Linked DNA regions of Homo sapiens: region 1 is linked to region 2. The links come from fine-mapping of genetic effects on gene expression. A gene starts in region 2. The other region holds a variant in brackets. All regions are shown on one strand. Distances are from middle to middle. Region 1 overlaps TMEM151B (transmembrane protein 151B). Region 2 holds the start of AARS2 (alanyl-tRNA synthetase 2, mitochondrial).

What was found. PIP is the estimated chance that this variant, and not a neighbour inherited with it, causes the effect.
Region 1: its variant is the best candidate, but not a certain one, in a credible set for the expression of AARS2 in whole blood (INTERVAL, PIP 0.80).

Annotation. Positions count from the first base shown.
Region 1 is chr6:44,277,808-44,283,043 of GRCh38, forward strand. It overlaps TMEM151B (transmembrane protein 151B), which reads left to right. Exons shown (of 3, transcript NM_001137560.2): 3 at 1-1,637. It overlaps DRC5 (dynein regulatory complex subunit 5), which reads right to left. Exons shown (of 5, transcript NM_182539.4): 4 at 4,303-4,752; 5 at 927-2,583. The coding sequence ends at 2,374. Among named protein-coding and RNA genes, the nearest start is that of TMEM151B, 10 kb to the left of the region's middle. The variant G/A (reference allele first, on the strand shown) is at 2,713.
Region 2 is chr6:44,310,737-44,315,972 of GRCh38, forward strand. It overlaps AARS2 (alanyl-tRNA synthetase 2, mitochondrial), which reads right to left and starts at 2,611. Exons shown (of 22, transcript NM_020745.4): 1 at 2,345-2,611; 2 at 1,336-1,527; 3 at 654-799; 4 at 258-425. The coding sequence starts at 2,587. It overlaps LOC124901322 (a long non-coding RNA gene), which reads left to right. Exons shown (of 3, transcript XR_007059594.1): 3 at 3,415-3,811. RefSeq lists an enhancer at 2,356-2,915.

The DNA of each region.
Region 1 (5,236 bases), 33 kb before region 2:
TGGCCCCACGTCCTGTTCCCCTAAAGCTCTGACACCGCCTTCTCTCCGTGTGCTCCCCCCACCACCTCCACCCTGATGTGCTTCAGTGTGCATGTCTGTGAACAGCCCTCCTGCCCTGCCAACTCCCCTGGCTAAAGTCTCCCCAGCAGATTTAGCACCCAGGGATTGAGCTCACATTTCAGGCTAGAGAGGATAACCCTTGGGCCACCCACATCTCTCACCCCTGATGCTTCTTACTTCGCCTGAGCCATCAGAACTCCTCCTTACCCTCCTTCAGCCCCTCTCATCTTCCTTCAGCCCAGCCAGGCCTGCACCACCAACTGTGTGGCCTCCACCTATGCAACATCGCCTCTGGCTCCCCTTCCCTTCTTCCTAGCGGGGAGTGCGAGGGGCCCAAATTGTGGGGATACCATGGCCCATGGCTTCTAAAGGGTTTAGCTTTACTTTCAGGTAGAGATGGCTGAGTGAGGAGGGAGAAGAGGCTAGAGAGAGGGAGGCTTGGGCAGGGGAAACAGCTGCCCACCAGGTTTTCCTGGACAGCAGTGCCCACCTGCCTACTAGCACTGAACCTGCCTGGACCCTGAGTCTGTGCTCCTTGGGGGCCTGGCGTTTGGAGCACCCTTCTTTCCTCTGAATGGACATCTGTGAGGTACAGGTGGTGAGCTGCAGCCTCAGGCTCCATTTCTTAGCCAGCTGGCACCTGGATGTCATGCTTTGTGTGGGGACAGCCTGGCCACCTCAGGGCTCCAAGGAAGGAGGAACGTGGCTCCTCCTCCCTCAGGCCTGTTCCTGAGACAGAGCCTGGTCTCACAAGAGGGGAAGGGGGACCTCTATTATTATTTTTGCCTGTATTGACCATTTCTGCCTAGGTCGTCTCAGACAGCCTCATCTCCCACACATGCACAGACTTAGAGAGAAACCAATTCTTTGGTCTATTTTCTTGGTAGCTTTACTGATTGCCAGGGAAAATGAAAACCAGAAAATTAATTAATCTCTAAAATTAAACTTTACACTGAATGTTCTTGTTTCTCTAATTAGAACTTCTGCTAGCAGCTGTGGCTATACACACACACACACACACACACACCCTCACACCTACACGTTTGCACTCCGGAACTGTCAGAGGGTGTCAGGCACAGACAGACTCTAGGTTGCCTAGACAGGCACACACATGCAGTCACTCCCAAGCCCCCTTTGGTGCTCTGCTCAGCGCCTGCTTAGCGGAAGGAGTCCCTGGAGAGCAGGCACTCCTGGACTGGGGTTGTAGCCCATGACCTGCCCTTTGGGGACACAGTTCTGGAGGCTCTGGGCCAATGAATCAGCCCAAGGAGGATGGGCAATGGCGCTCAGCCTGAATCAGTCAGCTAGGTCTCTTGTGGCCCTGGGGGCTGATGTGATTCCTGTAGGTGTGGCCCCAGGGTGGACAGCTACAGAGTGATGGGGGACTCATGTAGGGCACCTGGAAGGCTCCATGTGTCCTGGGGACAAGGGCTTGTGGGGTGGGCTGGGCCTGGCTGGGGAGAAGACAGGTCTCTGTCAATTGGGTGCATCACACTGTGGCCTTTTTGTCGTGGATTTAAGCGCAAAGATTGTACAAATCAAACTGGTGGATAATAAAGTCGTGGATGACTCACTGACTTCCTGTCCCAGTGTGGCACTTCTTTCCCTCCCTCCCAGGGAAGCTCTCTGGGGTGGGTGGCAGGGATTGTGTCATCCTTCCCTGGAAGTTGTCATCTACAGTTGCCTCCCCAGAGGAGTCCACTGGGTCTGAGCCCCTGGTGTCAGCTCATTGTCCCCTTCCCAGGTTGGGAGTTGGGGAACTAGGGGATGGCGTGGCCTGTAGAACTGGATCACTTAAAGCAGAGTCAAGCAACAGGGAAATGCATCTACAGGGATGAGGGTGGCAGAGAGAGCCAGGCATAGCCCTGCTGTAGCCAGAGGGTGTGTGTGTGTGTGTGTGTGTGTGTGTGTGTGTGTGTGTGTGTGTGTTTGAAGATCAAGGATCTGTTTGGTAGAGAAGAAAATGGTGGGGAGTCAGGGAGGCAGGCAGCCCCAACGGGAGAATCTGGCAGGCACAGTCCCTCAGACACCTCTCTGACTTCCCTGTTCCTGAAAGAAGTTGGTCATTTGTGGGTGTCCAGTAATATCCTTTCCCTGGGCACAAAGGCTGGGTCCCTACTGCATACCCTTTCTTCCCCCATGCCAGGCTCCCTTCCCTGCCTCATGTCTCCATCCATACAACCCTTGATCACTCCAAGGTTATTCACAGTCCCCCTCCCCGCTCCCTCTGAACCAGTGTGATACTCTGCAGCAGGCATGGCAGGGGTATGAAATGAGGGATGGGGCTGGGGCCATGATCCAAGTCAGGTCATTTTATCCCACAGAGTTCTCAGGGCCATTGGCAGTTATGGTTGACATGAAGTGGCTGGGATTCAGGGCCCGCTGGCGGGCTGCTTCTCGGTTTGCGTAGAGGGCCTGGCCAATGAGGTACTCGCTTTCCTGGGCCACATCTGACAGGCGCAAGTCAAATTCCAGGAGGGTCTTGTTGTCTGACATGCCTTCCAGGAGCTGCTTCCCACCGTCCTGGGAGAAGGGTGCAAAGGAAGGGGTCATTTACATCACTACCCAGGATCTGACACACATACTACACATTTTCAGGTAGATGTGACTAAAACAAAAGTTTCACAAAACAATACTTAACCTATTTGTGAC[G/A]CATGATGACATATTCTGTTCTTTTCCATTTGAAAAATGGTAGCCAATACCCACTAAATTGACATCTCAACCCTACTAGTTTGAAAAACATGAATCTCTGGCAATGAAGATAATTCCATTCCTTTGGTTCAGCCATGGGCATGTGGGACAAATCTAATGAGATGTGAGGGGGAAGCTGAGAGAGGGTGGCTTCTGGGAAGCTTCTCCTCATTCCAAAAAGAGAAGAAAAGGGAGCAGGTGTTCTCCCGGTTTCTGCCTCTGGGCATGTCCCTGTATGAGATGTCAGAACTGTGGCAGCCATCTTGGGACTGACAGAAGCACTAGCGAGGCATTGGCCATGAGACTGGGGTGGGCAGAGCAGAGGGTAGCACTGAACCCAGGGGTTTACCGACCCTACAACCCTCTAATTCTGGTTGTGGGAGACACTGAATATTCCTCCTGCTTAAGCCATTTCTGATTAAGCTTTTTATTACTTGCAGTCAACAGCACCCCCTCTAGAAACTGTGTGTGTGTGTGTGTGCGCGCATGCACGTGTGTGTGCGTGTATGTGCCTGTGTAGGTGAGCAAGGCTGTTCTCATGGGGAGGTTTAGTAGAGGGTTCAGTGACCTAATGGAGGGCCCTGCTCAATGGTCATCACAGCTCCAACCCCTGCTGGGCTGGGTGGGCTAGCCCCAATGTGAAAGAATTTCACGTTGGGAGGCAGAATGCTACCATTCTGTGGTTGTGACCCAGTAGTGTGTTGCAAAGTCAATTTAATGGGTCACAGAAGCATTTTAAAAAATACAATAGAATGGAATGTAAAGGAAAATATCAGCATATATCACGTCATAAATTTCAATATTATGTTTATGTCAGTGTTCATGTAAATTGCATTTTTTTTTTGAGACGGAGTCTCGCACTGTCACCCAGGCTGGAGTGCAGGGGCACGATCTCAGCTCACTGCAATCTCCGCCTCCTGGGTTCAAGCAATTCTCCTGCCTCAGGCTCCCAAGTAGCTGGGGTTACAGGTGCATGCCACCACATTGGGCTGATTTTTGTATTTTTAGTAGATATGGGGTTTCACCATGTTGGCCAGACTGGTCTCGAACTCCTGGCCTCAGGTGATCTACCCACCTCAGCCTCCCAAAGTGCTGGGATTACAGGCGTGAGCCACTGTGCCTGGTCGTAAATTGCATTTCTTACTCTCAGACTTGGTTAAGAAAGTTTTAGAGACACAGTCTATTAGAAAGGACTCAGGCTTTCAATCAATCTTGGGTTTGAATCGTAGCCTTGCCACTTGCTACTGACTTGATGCCCTTGGGCAACTCACTATCCTCTCTGAAACTTAGTTTTCCATCTAGAAAGTAGGGTTAAATATACTTAGTTATATACTTAAATATATTTAGGGTTAAATATGCTTAGGGTTAATATACAGTTACTTAGGTAACTGTAAGGATTAAAGGAAAAATAATCATTGGGATACACAGTATGTGTGCATACTTGATGCAGTATGTAGTATGTAAACTCTGTGATCTTCACAATTATCCCACAAGTACCCCTGGCAGTTGGATTCCACACCCACCCTCACAAGCCCAGAATAGGTGGCTCACCAGCCCGATGTGGTTGCAGGACAGGTTGATGCTGGTGAGTGTGGTGTTGATGGCGAGCACCTGTGACAGGAGTGTGGCGGTGGGCTCAGACAGCTCATTGCCACCGAGGTGCAGCGTGGTGAGGCACTTGTTGGTCTGCAAGGCATGGGCAAGAGCCTGGCCACCCTCATCCTCGATGCAGTTGAGACGTAGGTTGAGGGAAATGAGGTTGGTGTTGTGTGCCAGAGCGTGAGCCAGGGACTGGGCACCGGGTGCACGCACCTGGTTGTTAGCCAGGTTGAGCACACGCAGGCGGCTGTGGCTCAGCAGCTTGGCAGCACCTCGTGCACCACGGTCTCCAATGAGGTTTTGTGACAAGTCCAGCTCCTCGAGGACTGGGTGGTCCAGAAGGCTTCGAATTATGATGCGTGCCTTGTCATCATCCACCTTGCTTCGGGTCAGCTTGAAGATCTGTGGGCAGGCAGAGGGTCTACAGCAACTGCCAGCCAGGGATAATCAGCCTGCCCACCTAGATCTTTGGCAAACTTGGCTCACCTAGTGTTGGCCACCTGGCTGGGTCTTGGAGGGGGCCAGGCCTACCAGCATGGCAGAGTAGTGTAGAATTGGTGGCAGGTAGCAGGGAGGAAAGATCACTGTTTATTGAGCAATTACTACATGCTGGGTATGCTGCTTGGGTCTTCCTTTTTTATCTTTTTTTTTTTTTTTTTTTTTGAGACGGAGTCTCGCTCTGTCACCCAGGCTGGAGTGCAGTGGCGTGATCTTGGCTCACTGCAAGGTCCACCTTCCGGATTCACACCATTCTCCTGCCTCAGCCTCCTGAGTAGCTGAGACTACAAGTGCCCGCCACCACGCCCTGCTAATTTTTTGTATTTTTAGTAGAGACAGGGTTTTACCGTGTTAGCCAGGATGGTCTTGATCTCCTGACCTCGTGATC
Region 2 (5,236 bases):
AGAAGAAAATCTGAGATCATCAAGTTCAACTCGTTGATCATCAAGTTCAACAGAGAATAGCAGTGACTTGTTTAAGCTGTCACAGGCAAAGACTACAATTAAATCAGTTATTATCTATAAGGTGTTGAGAATTGTGCCTGACACACGGTAAGCACCGTTTACATGTTTGTTTTTATATGAAACAGATCAAAGTCTTCTAATTGCCACCTTTCCCACTTCTAGTCAGGGATTCTCATCCTGCTTCAGCACCCTATTACCTGTTGTGTTGCATGAAGACCAGGTTCCAAAGCTCTACCAGCTGGGGGGCTCCCACCCCACCAGCAAGGTCGTAGTGGATCTCAGTACAGGGCCCACAAGGGCCAGTATCCCCCATCTCCCAGAAGTTCTCTTGTGGTCCAAAGGAAAGCACACGGCTAGCAGGCACCCTGGGGAGAAAAGCAGGTGAGTGGTGGGAGACAGACAGACCCAGAAGCTGGGACTCTCTCTGCCATGAGAGCCCCTCCCTCAAGTCACAGCTCAGCAAGAGGAGGAACAGGGCTGACCCCACAATATCCTGGAATGAAATGCTAAGACTCTGAGGATTGGTGCTGGTAGTCTCCACTTTCCAGTCCTCCTGACCTCCAGGAATGAACATAAGAAGGGGGCTGACTTACCCTAAGCTCAGCCAGATGTCCCTGGTCTCCAGGTCTGGGTCCAGCCCTGCCTTGGGGTCACCATCAAAGTAGGAGATCCAGAGCCTTTCCTCAGGGATCCCATAGACCTGAGTCAGCAGTTCCCAGGCCATGTTACAAGCCTCCTCCTGCAGCAGAAACCAGCATGGGGTGGGGGGGGAAGACGGGTGAGAGGGAGACCCCACTGAAGTAATCAAGCCACATGAGTTTAGCTCCCGACTTAAGACAAAAGCATTTCTGCTGCCATCTTGTTCCCAGAATAAGCCATGAACCATTACTGCCTCTGAGTGTTTTCCTGCCCAGAAAGCTTCCCCCTTCTTCTAAGTCCTATCTTCTTTCAAGTCCCAGACCAAGTCCCACTTTCACATGAAATTCTCTGCCTACTCTAGCCTAGAGTGATCTTTAACTCCAGTAAGCACCTTAGCATTGCTGTTTGACCATTTATTCAAACAACAATTTTTGAGTGATCATTAGGCAGAAAGTACAGTCTCTGCCCTTCAGGGACTTACAATCCAATCAGGGAGGTGAGGTAATTCCTGTTACACCGGCTCAACTAGCACTTTGCCTCCACATCTGGTATGAGGCCCTGCCTAAGCAGACAGTACAATGGAAACAGGACAAATTGACTCCCTTCTTGGCTGATCACTGATCCCCAGAGACTCACCTTAAAATATTCACCCCCAAAGGCCCAATTGCCAAGCATTTCAAAGAAGGTATGATGGGAAAGGTCTCGACCCACATCTTCCAGGTCGTTATGGTGTCCTCCAGCTCTCACACATTTCTGGCTGTTGGCCACACGTCGGAAGCCTGCCATCTCGCTTCGTGGATCCACGGTGCCCAGAAAGATTGGCTTGAACTGGAAGCACATAGAGTGGGGAGGGGGAGAGGGATATCCAATTTCTCAGTAGAAGGGAAATGTGGGGAGTGAGGATAGGGATGGCTGTTCAGACCGAAGGCTGACTGTGCCCCTGAGAGTGCAGTGTAATCTTGGTCTATGAGGACAAACTGGGAGCCTCGGGACAGCCATCTCTGGTGTGTGGGGAGCAGAGAAGAGGTAAACAAATCATGAACCGGAGACCCTCTGCCTAGTAAAATAGGCAAGGTAAAAGAAGGAGGAATGTGTTGGGAGCTGGAAATGGGACGCTGAAAGGTGGCATCCTCCGTCTCAGCTTCTTCAACCACACCCAATAACTTCAGGGAACAAAACTGAGACTCATTTAGTAGGGAGCCCAGACGGCCTCTAAGGTTAACTTATGCCGCCCCTATTTTACAGATGAGGACAATGAAGTCTAGAAAAGATGAGTGGTTGATAAAAACCAAAACCTTAGAGAATAGTACTCAGCAAACAATAGGTGATCAATAAACATTTAATGAAAGCGTTATCTTTATTTAAATAACGAATAAATGAAATCAGACTTCTCCCTCGGGATTCCACTCCAGCCATTTCTGGACCTAATACTCAATCCCAATCCAGAAGTTCCCAGCTCAAGCCCTCCCCAAGCCCTCCCTATACTCTGAGCGCCGTACCCCCATCACTTTACCCAACCAAGCACCGCCCTCTTTCCCCAAAAGCTACGAACTCCGCCTCTCGCTTCTTTTGCCCAATCCTGCAGCGTCTTTCTCACCAGAAAACTCACGAACTCCGCTCCCTATCAGTATGGTTCGGCCCTCACCTGGTTCATGCCCGCATTGACAAAAAGCAAACTGGGGTCGCCGCGGGGCCGCACGGAAGCGGAGGGCACCAGCCGGTGGCCATGGCGGTCCCGAAAGAAGTTCAGAAAGGCGGCCCTCACGGCCGAGGCCTTGGCTGCAGGGGGCTCCGATGAGAGCGGCCGATGGCTGAGGCCCCGCCATGCGGGCGACCTTCGAATGGCCCGCCGCAGCCTCCGGGCTGCAGCTGCCACTGACGCTGCCATCGTAGCTCCGGGCAGTGACTTTACGTGGTCAAAGAGTGACGAGGGAAGGAAGCCAGGCGTTTCCTACAGCGGCCCCTGGCGGTAGGAGGACTCAGGGGGCGGCCTCTGCCGCCGGGGTGGAAGCGATCGATTGGGTCGCTGGCAGAGTCTAGCACAGCGCCCGGCACATAGTAGGCTCTTAATTCATTCGGCATTAAGCAAATATTCATTGAGAGCCTACTATGTGCTAGGCATTGTTTTGGGCTTTTAGGGTACAAAATTGACAAAATGCCCTGCCCACTGAAATCCGTATTCTAGCAGTAATTGCTGTTGTGCTTATTAGTTTTGCAAAGTTACAGATGGGGTTGCAATAAACAGGTGTGGATTCAACTTCGTGTGTGTGTGTGTGTGTGTGTGTGTGTGTTTTGTGTGTGTTTTTCCAGGCTGAGGGAAGAAGGCAGAGAGTGACAGGGGAGTATCAGCATTCATTCAAGAGGTATTCAACAAATATTTATTGAAGACCTAGTATGTGCTAGGCACTGTTCTAGGCATTTGCCAGTTTCCTTGGACCTTGGCATCAGACACGGCCATTTTTGCCCGTGAAGCAGGAGTCTATAGGAGAACACAGAAGCCAAACAGCATCTGCTATATTATTAATTGCCTAACATTTGGTCTTCTCATTTGCCTGGGGATCAGAGAGAATCCAGGTCGTCAAGGCAGGAGGAAGCTGTTGGCTAATAGCTGCAGAGATTTCACTCTCTAAGCCTTCTAATGCCCTAAGGTTTTGTGTGTTTTCGTTTAGGATAAGAGATATACCTGTTCTACCTCTCCCTTCTGTCTTTCCATAGTAACAGCTGTGACCCTGAAGCCAACAGGCCCTTGTGGATGCAATCAGGGTGCTCATGGGGCTTCTCATGATGCCCTTGGCTTGGGAAATTAAACAGATTGGGAAGACAGAAGAGAATCTGCCAAAGCTAAAACTCAATAGAGGTTCCAGAGCTGAGGTCAGTGTAATAACCGAGAAGGCCTTAGCCATCAGGGTGGTCTCTTTTAGCCACGATTCTGTGTGTGTTAAGTTATTTGGGGTCTTTGTATACATAGTTTCTCTGCGGAATCTACATTGGACTTGAATTTCTATAGTGATAGTAAATTCTTAACTTTGTGTTCTGACAGCACCTATAACTCCTATTCCATGATCCCCTTTTTCTCCCTTTGCCCACATAGATTAAAGGTGTTGTTTTGAAAGTGTGTTTGGCCTGTTTTGGTTTTTCCAGTGTTTCTGGAACAGAAAGCTAAAGCCAGCTGGGGATTTCTGTGTGATTAATGACTTTTTTATTTTTTTGAGATGGGGTTTCACTCTTGTTGTGCTGGCGTGCAATAGCACAATCTCGGCTCTCTGCAACCTCTGTCTCCCGGGTTCAAGCAATTATCCTGCCTTAGCCTCCTGAGTAGCTGGGATTACAGGCATGCATCACCACGCCCGGCTAATTTTGTATTTTTAGTAGAGATGGGGTTTCTCCATGTTGGTCAGGCTGGTCTTGAACTCCCGACCTCAGCTGACCTGCCTACCTCAGCCTTCCGAAGTGCTGGGATTACAGGCATGCACCACTGCGCCCAGCTGAGATTGATGATCTTTAGACAAGACTGTGAAATTATTTCCCAAACTGAGATGGGAGTGTTTTGCCATACAAACCTGGCAGGGCCTCTACTCAGTACTGACATCAACTTTTTTTTTTTCAGATTTTGCCCAGAAAGTCATTGTGTTACATTAGAAACTCCAAACATGGATCTAGTGTGGAGCCATATAATTTTTTTAAAACAGCTTTATTGAAATATAATTTACATGCTATACAATTCGCCCATTTAAATAAAGTATACAGTTCAATGCCTTTTAGTATATTTACATAGAGTTGCCCATCCATCACCACAATCACTTTTAGAACATTTTCATTACTTCCAAATAAAACCCCAAATCCTTTAGCCATTAACCCCCAATCGTCTCATCCTTCCTAGCCCTTGGCAACCACTAATCTACCTTCTGTCTCTACAGACTTGTATATTCTGGACATTTCATGTAAATGGAATCATGTAATATGTGGTTCTTTGTAACTGGCTTCTTTCACATAAAATAATATTTTCAAGGTTCATCCATGTTGTAGCATGTACCATGGATTTTTAGAAAAATGTTTTTAGTTGTTTTCTGTTTGAAGTAGGTTTTTCTCTCATCTAATTTTGTCTTTGCCACTAAAAATGATAATTTTCTTTTCTTTAAATGTGGTGCTCTTTGGTGAATCATTAGGTTCTTTTTAATATTTCCCAGTGAAGCAAAGCGGTTCATCTAGGATTGGGACGTGTCTGTTCTGGTTTGCAGCTGTCATCTGATGAGGAAGTTAAATTGAAGGACTGCAGTTTCCCAAGATAGATGGAGGTGGAGAAAACTCATCAGACAGGGAAGTTACCAATCCTGGGAACTTCTCTGAAGGGTACTGATCCACTGTCTTAGTATTTATGGGAATTTCATTTTGAGGTTTAACATGCAAATGGGGTCTGCTTTTTGCGAGTTACTCAGCTGGGTTTTGTGAGCAACATTTGGGGTGCTCCTTTCATTGTTTAAGACAGTGGTGCTTTATCTTCCCTGGAGGTGGGATTTACCCTTACGTTGCCATTCGA